2 separate regions of the Homo sapiens genome follow, and region 2 is linked to region 1. The links come from fine-mapping of genetic effects on gene expression. A gene starts in region 1. The other region holds a variant in brackets. All regions are shown on one strand. Distances are from middle to middle.

Region 1 (5,379 bases):
TTTAAAATTTGTTACTTGTTTATTTATCAAGAGAAACTATTTCTCAGCCCACATATTCATGCTTCATGGTTCAGGAACACAAGTCAGTGACAAACTTTAACCCAAAGAAATTCTTTCAATTCCAAAATCACTTTGTACTCTGAAAGATACCAGCCTTCCTCATCTCCTGAAAATCTGTTATAGAATTACAATTTCTCTAGAAATCTGTGTATGCCTTATTTCTTGGTTCAGCAACAGCGAACCTATAGAGAGCTGCAATCCATAGGGATGCAACAAATGCTTAAACAATATGAAACCACAGATGCCTGGCTGGAAGGCCACACATTTGAGGTTTTATCAAAGCACTGAAAACCTAGTTATTGTCTTGAAAGGTATGTCAACCTAAAGTAACAAGATTCAGAAAATATCATTAAGTAGGGCATTTATTTGACCCCAAAACTTGAGGATGGCCACTTGGGAATACAGATTCAAGTTGCCCTGAATATACACTACCAGTTTCCTGTTTCTTGTCTCTTGCTCACTCTCTGCTTTCTAGCCTTTCTAGACCTGAACATCCTGCCTCCTGCCACAGAGCCTTTGCACATCCTATTATCTGGCCTGAAAGGCTATTTCTTCCCATTTTTGGTCTAAGTACTCATCTTTCAGATCTTAAATCATGGATCTCTTTCCCAGAAAAACTTTTCTGACCTTCCTGGCCACAATGAGCAAGTGGAACCCATCATGGGTGTCAGGGGCACCAATCAATATTTGTTGAATGAATAGAATGAACGAATGGTCCTTGATGATCTTCTTTAGAGCTCAATAATATGGGCAGAGAAGAAAGAGTGTAGGCGGTCTAAGGTGGTCAGGGAAGGCATCCTGGATTTATGTAGACAGAGAGGCCTAGAGAAAAAAGCCAGGAAATACAGATTATATACCTGTCTCTTATAGCTATCATATAACCTGACACAATGTTGGCATTTGATGAGACTTTGGTGACTACTTGGCATCTCGAGAATCACTGAAGAGTAGCCAAGAGACCATGTGGTCCATTATCCACACCTGTCTTATGGAAAGGGAAACTGAGGCCCAGAAAGGAAAACTACATTGTTCACATCACTTACCAAAATAGAGGAAGAAATGAAATAAAATCCATGTCTCCCAAGTCCAGGACTGGCAGATTTGTGTCAAGTAGAAGATGTACCTAAACTCTTGGTCAGAGACCAGCCATCAGTGAACTAGGAGACAGAGGTAGTGCAGTGCAGGTGGAGATAGGAGGTGAGGGCACTGGGTAATTTAGGAAGCATCTGAGTTACCTTTCTGAAGTCTAAACATTTCTTTCCACGGCTGAACGGGCAACACTTCATGTTTTCTGGGCAATCTCTGGGTTTGGTACACTGGTCTATTTCTTCCACTTCGCATTCCACTTTGATTTTGGGACACGGCTCTAAGGGAGGGGAAGATATATTCCCTCAAGGCCTTAAAGGAGCCAGTGCTCCCCCTCCCCGAGACCAGGGCACCCCTCCAGAGTTAGAGAACTTTGTTTCCACTTCACCTATCCCCAGAAGGTAGTGGCCCTCAGGGGGCTCAGGAATTTCACAACACTGCTCACATCCCCAACCCCATAACAACTCACCATCGGATGCCTAAACCAACCCCTACCCCCTACCCGCACCATCTATGAGATTCCTGAGAGAAAGACGCATTCCTCTAAGACTGTTCTGGTCACTCAGCCTTGCTGTGCTTGGTTGCTCCCCCAGGAGGTGCTGTGGCTCTCGATGATTGAGATTAACATTTCTGGCATCAGATAGCTGGGCTTTTGAATTCTGTGAGACGCTTGGTGTGCCAGGCACTCTCTCTGAGCCTTGATTTCCTCATTTGCCCATAGGGTTGCTTTGAAGACTAACCAGCAACACAGTTTGACAAGCCATCGTCAAACTGCCTGGGGCAATGTAACGTAACAATGAGTAATATGGATGAAGCACTTACTGTGAGCTGCCTTTTCTCCTTAATCCTCATTACAAATCTATGGGTAAGTACTCTTAATATTCACATTTTGTAAACAGAAGAATTGGAAGCATAAGGAGATTATGTGAATTTGCCCAAGATCACACAGCTACTCAGGGGTGGAGCCAGGTTTGAACCTACAATGTGTGGCTCCTGAGTGCTCACTTTCAACCACTAATTTTCAGTGCCCAGTACAGTTAGCTGCTAATTGTGAGTCTTCACATTTCAGCATTCCAAGGGACTTCTGGAGACCATTCTTTAACCCAAAGACCAGGGTCCTCTGTGGGTATGGGTGTGGGGGCTGCAATGAGAACATTTGGAAGTTGACACAGGTGGTGTTGTGGGGAGCAGCCTGTTTTTCTTGTGGGAGACTTCCTTGGGCTTACTACTCCTTCTTAGTTCATTTCATGAGCTCTAGGTCCAGGCACCTCCAGGAAGAACTCTTTGGAATGGCAGCAAGGAGTCACTTGCCACAGATTTGGATGCCTGTATTCACCAAGGGAGTCTCTTACCAAGAGACTTCAAATAGCTCCCCTCTTTCCCACCTGGAATTCCAGGCAGAGGTGGAGAAAATAATTTCTCAGCTGCAAAATTATTCTTTGTTCCTTCCTCCCCACTGAGTTTCCTTTCCCCATTGCAAGGACGGAGTTCCCAATACTTACTGCCAAGGATGCCTTCAGCGTGCCCAGGTTCCTGGATGTCCCCCAAAAGGATGAATGGTACCAGGATTGGCAGAAGTCCTGAGAGTCCCATTTTAGGAAGTACTGGCCTGGTTGATGGCACCAAAACTAAGAACTGCTCCTCAGCAGCTCCTACATCTGCACTTTGCCTGCCCCGGTGTGGCCCAGCACCTTAAGAGACAGCCCTGGAGACAAGCCAGCCAGACTCCCCGATCAGGAACACCAGATCCCTGAGGCCATCAGTGGGACTACCTGGTACCTACACTGGGGGATAGGTGGCTCCTAATCCTCAGCAATCTGAGGCTTTCTGGTCTACCAGGGAAAGAGGGCACATGTTGTCTTGGGCTTTCCAGGCTCCCTTAGCAGAAGGGGAGGTTTAACTCCAGAGTCTTCCATTTCCCAGGGGGAGTTTGCAGGTTAACAGTATGCTAGCTCTCTTCCTTCTTTCTAATTTCACTCTTCTCCTGACATGTCTATTCTTATGTTTTATTTTTCTCACTCTGTTTCTTCTCTTTTCTGTGCATCTGTATGTCTTTTACTCTGTGCCTGTCTTTTTCTCAGGGAGTCTCTGTCTGTCTGAGTCTCTTTCTCCCCGCCCTTCACTTCCCTCTCTCTTCTTTCGTATGTAAAGATCAGTTACATTTATCCTTTAAGTCGTTTGATTTTGCAACAGTAAATAACTTCTTTCATTACTTTGGGACTTCTCCAACTCTGTTCTCCGTTTTTCCCTGTTGTCACAGCTACAGCATTGGATTAAAAGTCACACCCTGAAGCATTAACGCTTGAGCATCTGTACCAAGTTTTATATCCTTGGTATAAGCCCGAAGGAGGTGAGGAGCCAGTTACCTGGGCATCAGTTCCATCTGGCAAAGGACTGTGGGTAATGGAAGCATTTCTGCAGGGTGGCAGCAGGGTGTGTGTGCAGCAAGGCATGTCATCAGTGGTGAGTGAGAAGTTCATTCCTTTTTATGGCCGAATAATAGCCAATGCACATTGACAGCCTCCTACCTCTAGCATCAGTCCCTAATTTTCTGCTGTGGGTTTTCTCTGGCCCCCAGGGAGCTTGTATAGCTTGCAAGTATAACAGTTTGAAAGAGCGAGGGATTTAGTATCCCTGGCATCCAGTGGGCGTTGGGAATCAGTGGACAAATAGCTTAGCTTTCCCATCACTGGAGACAGATTAAGAAAATTTGTGGTCTGATATCCAGAATCTACAAGGAACTTAAACAAATTTACAAGAAAAAAAACAAACAACCCCATTGAAAAGTGGGCAAAGGACATGAACAGACACTTCTCAAAAGAAGACATTTATGCGGCCAACAAACATATGAAAAAAAGCTCAACACCAGTGATCATCAGAGAAATGCAAATCAAAACCACAATGAGATACCATCTCATGCCAGTCAGAATGGTGATTATTAAAAAGTCCAGAAACAACAGATGCTGGTAAAGCTGTGGAGAAACATGAATGCTTTTACACTGTTGGGAATGTAAATTGGTTCAACCATTGTGGAAGAGAGTGTGCCAATTCCTGAAAGATCTAGAACCAGAAATACCATTTGACCCAGCAATCCCATTACTGGGTATACACTCAAAGGAATATAAATCATTCTTTTATAAAGATACATGCATGTGTATGTTCACTGCAGCACTATTTACAATAGCAAAAACATGGAATCAAACCAAATATCCATCAACGATAGGCTGGATAAAGAAAATGTGGTACATATATGCCATGGAATACTATGCAGCCATAAAAAGAAATGAGATCACGTCCTTTGCAGGGACATGGATGAAGCTGGAAGCCGTTATCCTCAGCAAAGTAACGCAGGAACAAAAGTAAATACCACATGTTCTCACTTGCAAGTGGGAGATGAACAATGAGAACACGTGGACTGTTGAGGGGGCAGGGGGAGGGAAAGCATCAGGATAAATAGCTAATGCATGCGGGGCTTAATACCCAGGTAATGGGTTGATAGGTGCAGCAAACCACCATGGCACAGGCTTACCTATGTAACAAACCTGCAGGTCCTGCACATGTATCCCGGAACGTAAAATAAAATAAAATATTTTTAAAAAGAAAATTTGTAAGCCTGTTTTACATGATTCTTTAAAAGGTCCCCAATAGGATTGAGCCACAGTAGTAACCAGCTCATAATAGACTCTTCTCTCTTCCCTTCTCTTCCCTGAATTACTCATCTCACTCCCCATCTTGTATGTCCTGGGAAATCTCTCAAACAAACTACCTGCACCCATGCCCTTTTCCCAGGGTTAGTTTCTAGAGGATCCAAACTAAGGCACTGTCCTTGGGCCCTTGCCTAAAAAGGGTTTTACAATCTTTTGTAGAAACAGAGGAAGATAACAATAACAATATTCCTGGAACTCTGAACTCTCAAAGTTCTGATTGTCTTCACTCCCTTGAATGATGTCACCAGAAGCCTCAATGATCCCTTACTCTGCAAAGTGTAATGTGCCAAAAAGATGTCAATCACTCAGCCTCAAGGCACAGGACTACATCAAGTACTTTACTGGAAAAAATTGAGAGTGACACAGGTATAAACTGGGAGTTCTAGAAGTTGGAGATAAAGGGGACATAAAGATGAAATCAAAACGGATGGATATTGTGCATCAAAAGAGCCAAAGATGGAGGAAGAGGAGGTAGATGCAAGCGTTCTGTTCTGGGAAGGGCTAAGATCTTGGAATGCTGAGAGTG
Region 2 (5,379 bases), 23 kb after region 1:
GGAGAAGCATGTTGGATACCAGGGAAAGGGGTTAGAAAGGGACCAAGGCCCTTTCCCTAAATTCAAAAGATTTTCTCTCTTCTTGAAACCTAATATTTTAATGCTTAATTCCTTTGTCTCCAGTTGATAAAAGAAATTAGTAAAGACTGGTGGGAACATCATGGAAGTAGAGGTCAGGAGGGCTGATTTGACCCTTGACTCCTGGTAAACTCAAGACCAATCTGAACTCATTGTATGATTTTTAATTTACCTCTAAGGAGTAAGAAACAGTGGAGTGGAAGAAGCATTGTAGTCAGGCAGACCTGGCTCGGGAGCCTGGCTCCAACACTAACCAACTAAATAATCTTGGGAAAGTATTTCCCTTCATCTGAGTTATATTTTCCATCTTTAAAATGAGAATGACAATTCCTGCCTTACAGGCTGATTATAAGAGTTAAATGGGGTGATGTCTATAATGCCTGGGGTAAGACCTTGGCAGATGTGGCGTTGCTTTCTACCTTTTATTTTTATTTTTATTTTTTTACTAAAAACTAGAAGAGGCAAGGGGAAAAAAACTACAGCACCCAGTGTTTCCAGTCAGTCTCCCATCCAAGTACTAACCAGGTCTGATCCTGCTTACCTTTTGAGATCAGACAAGATCAGGAATTTTCAGGGTGGTATGGCCATGCTTCCTTCCTTTTTAAGGCTAGACATGGCTTCCTGATTTCAGTGCTTGTGGTAGGTAGAATCTAAAGTTGCACCCTCAAGATTCCCATCTTCTGATTATTGAATCAAACACTAAGCTAGGCAATGCTGTGAAGGGATTTTGCAGAAAAATTAAAGACCCAAGTTAGTTGACTTTAAGATTAGAGATTATCTCTAATTTTAAGGTCTAATCTCTGGCCCAGACCTAGTCAATTAGGTCCTTGAAAAGCAGAGTTTTCTTCTGGTTGGTAGAGAAGAATTGATTAGAGAGATTCAAATGATGAGAAGGATCCAACTTGCTATTCGTAGCTTTGAAGATGGTTGAGGCCAAGTGCCAAGGAATAAGGGTGGCATCTAGAAGTGACAGCCAGTAAAGGAGCCTCAGTCCTACAACTCCAAGGAAATGACTCTACTACAACCAGGGAGCTTGGGAGAGGACAGTGCATCCCAAATGAGAACTACAGCCCTGGCTGACATTTCAATCTTGGCCTGGTAAGACCCGGAGCAAAGAACCCAGATGCACAATGCCAGACTTCTGACCCACAGATAATTTGTTACGTAGCAAAGGATAGCTCATACAGCGCTTAATGTGTCTCCATGATTCTAAACTGAGCATCCCTCCAGTGGAATCTGGCCAGAGAGGCATGATCCTTTCAGATACTACTGAGTCTTGGAACTGTAGAACTTTGGAATGGAAAGAACTCTATTTATCATTGGTACCAAACTTCTGATTTCATAGATCAAAAGTAATGAGGTCAGATAGGATAATACAATGCATTAGGGGCAAGTCTGGGACTTACAATCCAGGACTCACTTCAGGAGCCCCACGTCTTCCCTGAGGACTGGCCACTGAGACTTTGAGTACTTTCCAACAATACTTCTTGTCATTAATGACCCCCTCCAGGAATGGACTGAAGCTAAGAAGAGTATGTGGTTCCTAATTTGGAGTGTACATCAAAATCATCTATGCATCTTTCAGAAAATATAGACTCTAGGCTGAATCAGAATCTCTAGAAAGTGCATCCTTGGGACTCCACTTTTTAAAAAGAACCCCAGGTGGTCCTAAAGCAGGCAGTGGGCTCCAGGAGATAGGCTGTTACTTGGGAACCATTGTTCTAGGTTTAGGCAGAGACAGAGTTCGGCAAATCAAACTGGGTTTGAGTTGTTGTAGCTCCTTTCCCCATTGTCAGCTTGAACTCTCACTTATTAATAAAAACCCTCCTCCGTTTCTTGTTGGCTCTTCTTAACCACTTACTTGTGTGTATAAGCATACCTCATGGGTTTCTCTGCATCTACTGGGGATGCTTCTCAGAGATCTGGTCTCAGCTGTCTTCTGACATTACTTGACACATACTTCCTGGGTAATCCCACTCGTTCCCACGATCCCAACTATGATTCCCATCTCTTCCTCCAGACTCATCCTCTATTCCAAACTAAAGACTTTTATTTCGACCTGCCTGGGAAAAACACCATCTGGGCATCTCAGAAGCACCTCTGTTCCAACATATTTAAAACAGAACTATTATCTTCTTATGCCCAAGCACTACCTTACTTTCTATTCCGCATCTTGACATTTGGCATCAACAGGTCCAGTTTGTTATTAGAATCCAGAGATTCACTCCTTCCTCTCCGCCACCCCAGTATCCCATCACTCATGGACTTGGGTCAATTCTGTCTCCTAAACCTCTCTCCAAACCCTGTCTCCTGCCTCTCTTTACTACCACTCCCTCAGATCAGCACCTGATCTCACCCCTTGTCTCTTCTCAACTACTGCAGCAGCCTCCTCACTGGTCCTCTCCCCTCAGGCTCATGCCTAGTGACTTATTAATTAAAAAACAATTAAACTTGCGTGTGTGTGTGTGTGTGTGTGTGTGTGTGTGTGTGTACAGTGGGAATGAATGT[A/G]ATCACCCAAGAATTATGTGTTGAGTGATATCATAAGACAGATGAGACCAGATCTCTGGGGATCATCCCTAGTAGATGCAAACTATATATATAGTCTCCTTACATATATAAAAATATGGAAAAGTTAGGGAAATAATTTGGGGGGAGCAAGTAAGGAAAGTATGTGGAGGGCCAGGGTCGTGAGCAGGGGTAGCTTTCTGTGGCCCCAAATCCACAGTAGAGGGGGCCTCATCTGACACTGGCACTGGCCTCATGTCTAACCCTCATCCCCAATAATGCTTTCTAAGGAAGAATGGCTGCAGCTTTTTTGAACTCACGTTTGATCTTCTTGGTCAGCATTGCAGAAGTCCACTCCAAAGCAAGGGAGAGAAGCAGCAGGAAAGCTACATTCCTCCAGGAGAAGGTGGGGCTATGGAGAGGAAAGTGCCTGTATGGATGAGAAGAGAGGTGGGAGTTAAGCACAATCCAGAGAGAGACACAAAGTGTGTGCAGGGGAACCTTAGAGATGATCCACCAGGTCCCTTTAGTTCACAGGTAAGAAGACTGACACCAGCATGGGGAAGGAGTCTGTCTGAGGTCAGATGGTGAGTTAAGGTGTGTCTAAGACATTCCGTTTCAGGACCCTGACCAATCCCCATACCCTGCCATGGTGCTGTACCTTGTGCCACACAGACACTTGCCTATTGTCTTGTTCCTGGGTAAAAGGCCACACTTGAATGATCACAAGGATTTATTTGGAACAGTTGCAGAGCTGGTTTGCCCACAGTCACTCCAGGGGCAACCCCAGACACTAGTGAGCATCTTTTCTTTGCTCCACTGATGACAGAAATGGATGGTATGAGATTTCCCAGAGGGCCTGGGCACACTCTACTGGATCTTGGTGCACCAGAAGCAAGAACAATCTCAGATGACCTTGGGTTAACAGAGAAATTCCTTTTATTCCTTCTGTGACTATCCAAGCCTAGGATCTTATGATACTCCCAGACAACCAGATGAACAGATGAGCTTCCCCCGCCTACTCAAGCCCCCATTTCCCATATGTGTCTTCATGATCCTTATGTATTTTTTATTTTAAGGTGTGAAAAACTAATAATCCTTTACTGTATTAACTCTTAGAGTGCATGCATTTCAAAAATGCAAGAGGTGGGTAGAGGGAGAAAGAGGAAGCAAGAGACAGAGAAAACATCTTTATGCCAAAATATACATCTGTATTGGTGGAACTTCCGATACTGAGAAAGCTATGAAGGTATCTTGGAATAGAGTATCTTCCAGAGTTCCTGAAGCCATACCATGTGGCTGCCTAAAAGTAAAGACTTGTGACAATTTATCTCCCCAACCTTTTTTGTTGGGGGAGTTCTAATCATGTATCCTCTTCAAATTTTACAATAGTGCCTATACTCTCTGGTCATGGAAATTATGACCCCAAACATAGTGATCTTGATTTTGGGCCTCGCTCAATCCCTTATAACAGCATATCTTGGATCCTCAATTTCCTCATCTGGAAAATGGGAATAATACAATTAACCTGGAAGCTTTGTTGTCATTGTGAGGATTAAGATGAGATAGCATGAAGATTTAATGAAGTGGTACGGAGTGGTAGGAAACGTAGCATTCAGAGTTAGACCTGAGTTCACATCCTGAATCCACCACTTATCGGCTGTGTGGCCTGGGTTCAGTCACTTCACTTCACTGAGCCTCAATTTGTCATAAAGGAAACAATAATAACACCTACCTCACAGACATGAGAATTACTTGAACTATTTTTGTAAAGCATGACAAGTGGCTTGTAAATCAGTGTTTATTGTATTTTAGCCAGTTAACAAATAATGAATGGCAATAGTGAATGCCAACAAATGTTCCTATTACCATTTTAGCTTTTGAGTTCCCTAGTTAGAGACTGTGTAAATCATTCCTTTAGTTCCCCTAAAAGATTAGCCAAAAGGCCCTCTGGTGCTTTAAATTTTTATTATCAAGTCACTCTATGGGTTTGAAATTTTACCCTCTAACCTGAAAACATCTATTAACCCAGTCTTGAGAATCAGTTAATCAGATTAGCCTGCAGTCAGTTAGAAGAAAGCAGATCTCGTGGGATGGAGGCAGGGGAGAAACACAGATTAATAGAATTGCCAAACATAATAGAGGATGTCCATTTATAATTTTAGCATAAGTATATCCCATGCAATATAAGGAACATAGTTCTACTAAAAAAGTATTTGATGTTTATCTGACATTCAAATTTAATTGGTCATCCTCTATTTTTATTTTCTAAATCTGGCAACTTTGACACAGAATGAATCCATTTTGGTTGGACTGGGGTTTGTTTGGGCAAGAGACTACAAAACACAGGTCTTATAGGTAACAAATGAGCATAATTGCAAGAGTTGCTCAGTGGGGGCTCTGAAGAACTAGGACAGACCTGGAATACTAGGACAGACCTGGAATACTAGGACAGACCTGGAATACACGGACACAAATGTGCTATATAAATAACACACTAGGTTCTGGGCACGGTGGCTCATGTTTGTAATCTCAGCACTTTGAGAGGCCAAGACAGGAGGATCACTTGAGCCCAGGAGTTCAAGACCCACCTGGGCATGGGCTGGGTGCGGTGGCTCACGCCTGTAATCCCAGCACTTTGGGAGGCCCAGGTGGGCGGATTATGAGGTCAGGAGATTGAGACCATCCTGGCTAACACGGTGAAATCCCGTCTATACTAAACAAAATACAAAAAATTAACCGGGCGTGGTGGCGGGTGCCTGTAGTCCCAGCTATTCGGGAGGCTGAGGCAGGACA

Alleles and levels. Positions count from the first base shown, and alleles are read on the strand shown. Sizes are in standard deviations (SD) of each study's normalised expression.
With allele A in place of G in region 2, the expression in lung of the gene that starts at base 2,814 in region 1 is lower (small effect, 0.33 SD a copy in GTEx).

What was found. PIP is the estimated chance that this variant, and not a neighbour inherited with it, causes the effect. A credible set is the group of variants that fine-mapping cannot tell apart.
Region 2: its variant is the best candidate, but not a certain one, in a credible set for the expression of WFDC6 in lung (GTEx, PIP 0.70).

Annotation. Positions count from the first base shown.
Region 1 is chr20:45,536,669-45,542,047 of GRCh38, forward strand. It overlaps WFDC6 (WAP four-disulfide core domain 6), which reads right to left and starts at 2,814. Exons shown (of 3, transcript NM_080827.2): 1 at 2,649-2,814; 2 at 1,296-1,426. The coding sequence starts at 2,739. It overlaps EPPIN-WFDC6 (EPPIN-WFDC6 readthrough), which reads right to left. Exons shown (of 5, transcript NM_001198986.2): 4 at 1,296-1,426; 5 at 1-882. The coding sequence ends at 865. It overlaps EPPIN (epididymal peptidase inhibitor), which reads right to left. Exons shown (of 4, transcript NM_020398.4): 4 at 3,958-5,379. LOC107987282 (a long non-coding RNA gene) reads left to right here. Exons shown (of 4, transcript XR_001754641.3): 3 at 1,868-2,011; 4 at 3,407-3,719. It also overlaps the pseudogene HSPD1P21.
Region 2 is chr20:45,559,207-45,564,585 of GRCh38, forward strand. WFDC8 (WAP four-disulfide core domain 8) reads right to left here. Exons shown (of 6, transcript NM_130896.3): 2 at 2,904-3,013. It also overlaps the pseudogene RNA5SP485. Among named protein-coding and RNA genes, the nearest start is that of EPPIN-WFDC6, 14 kb to the left of the region's middle. The variant A/G (reference allele first, on the strand shown) is at 2,587.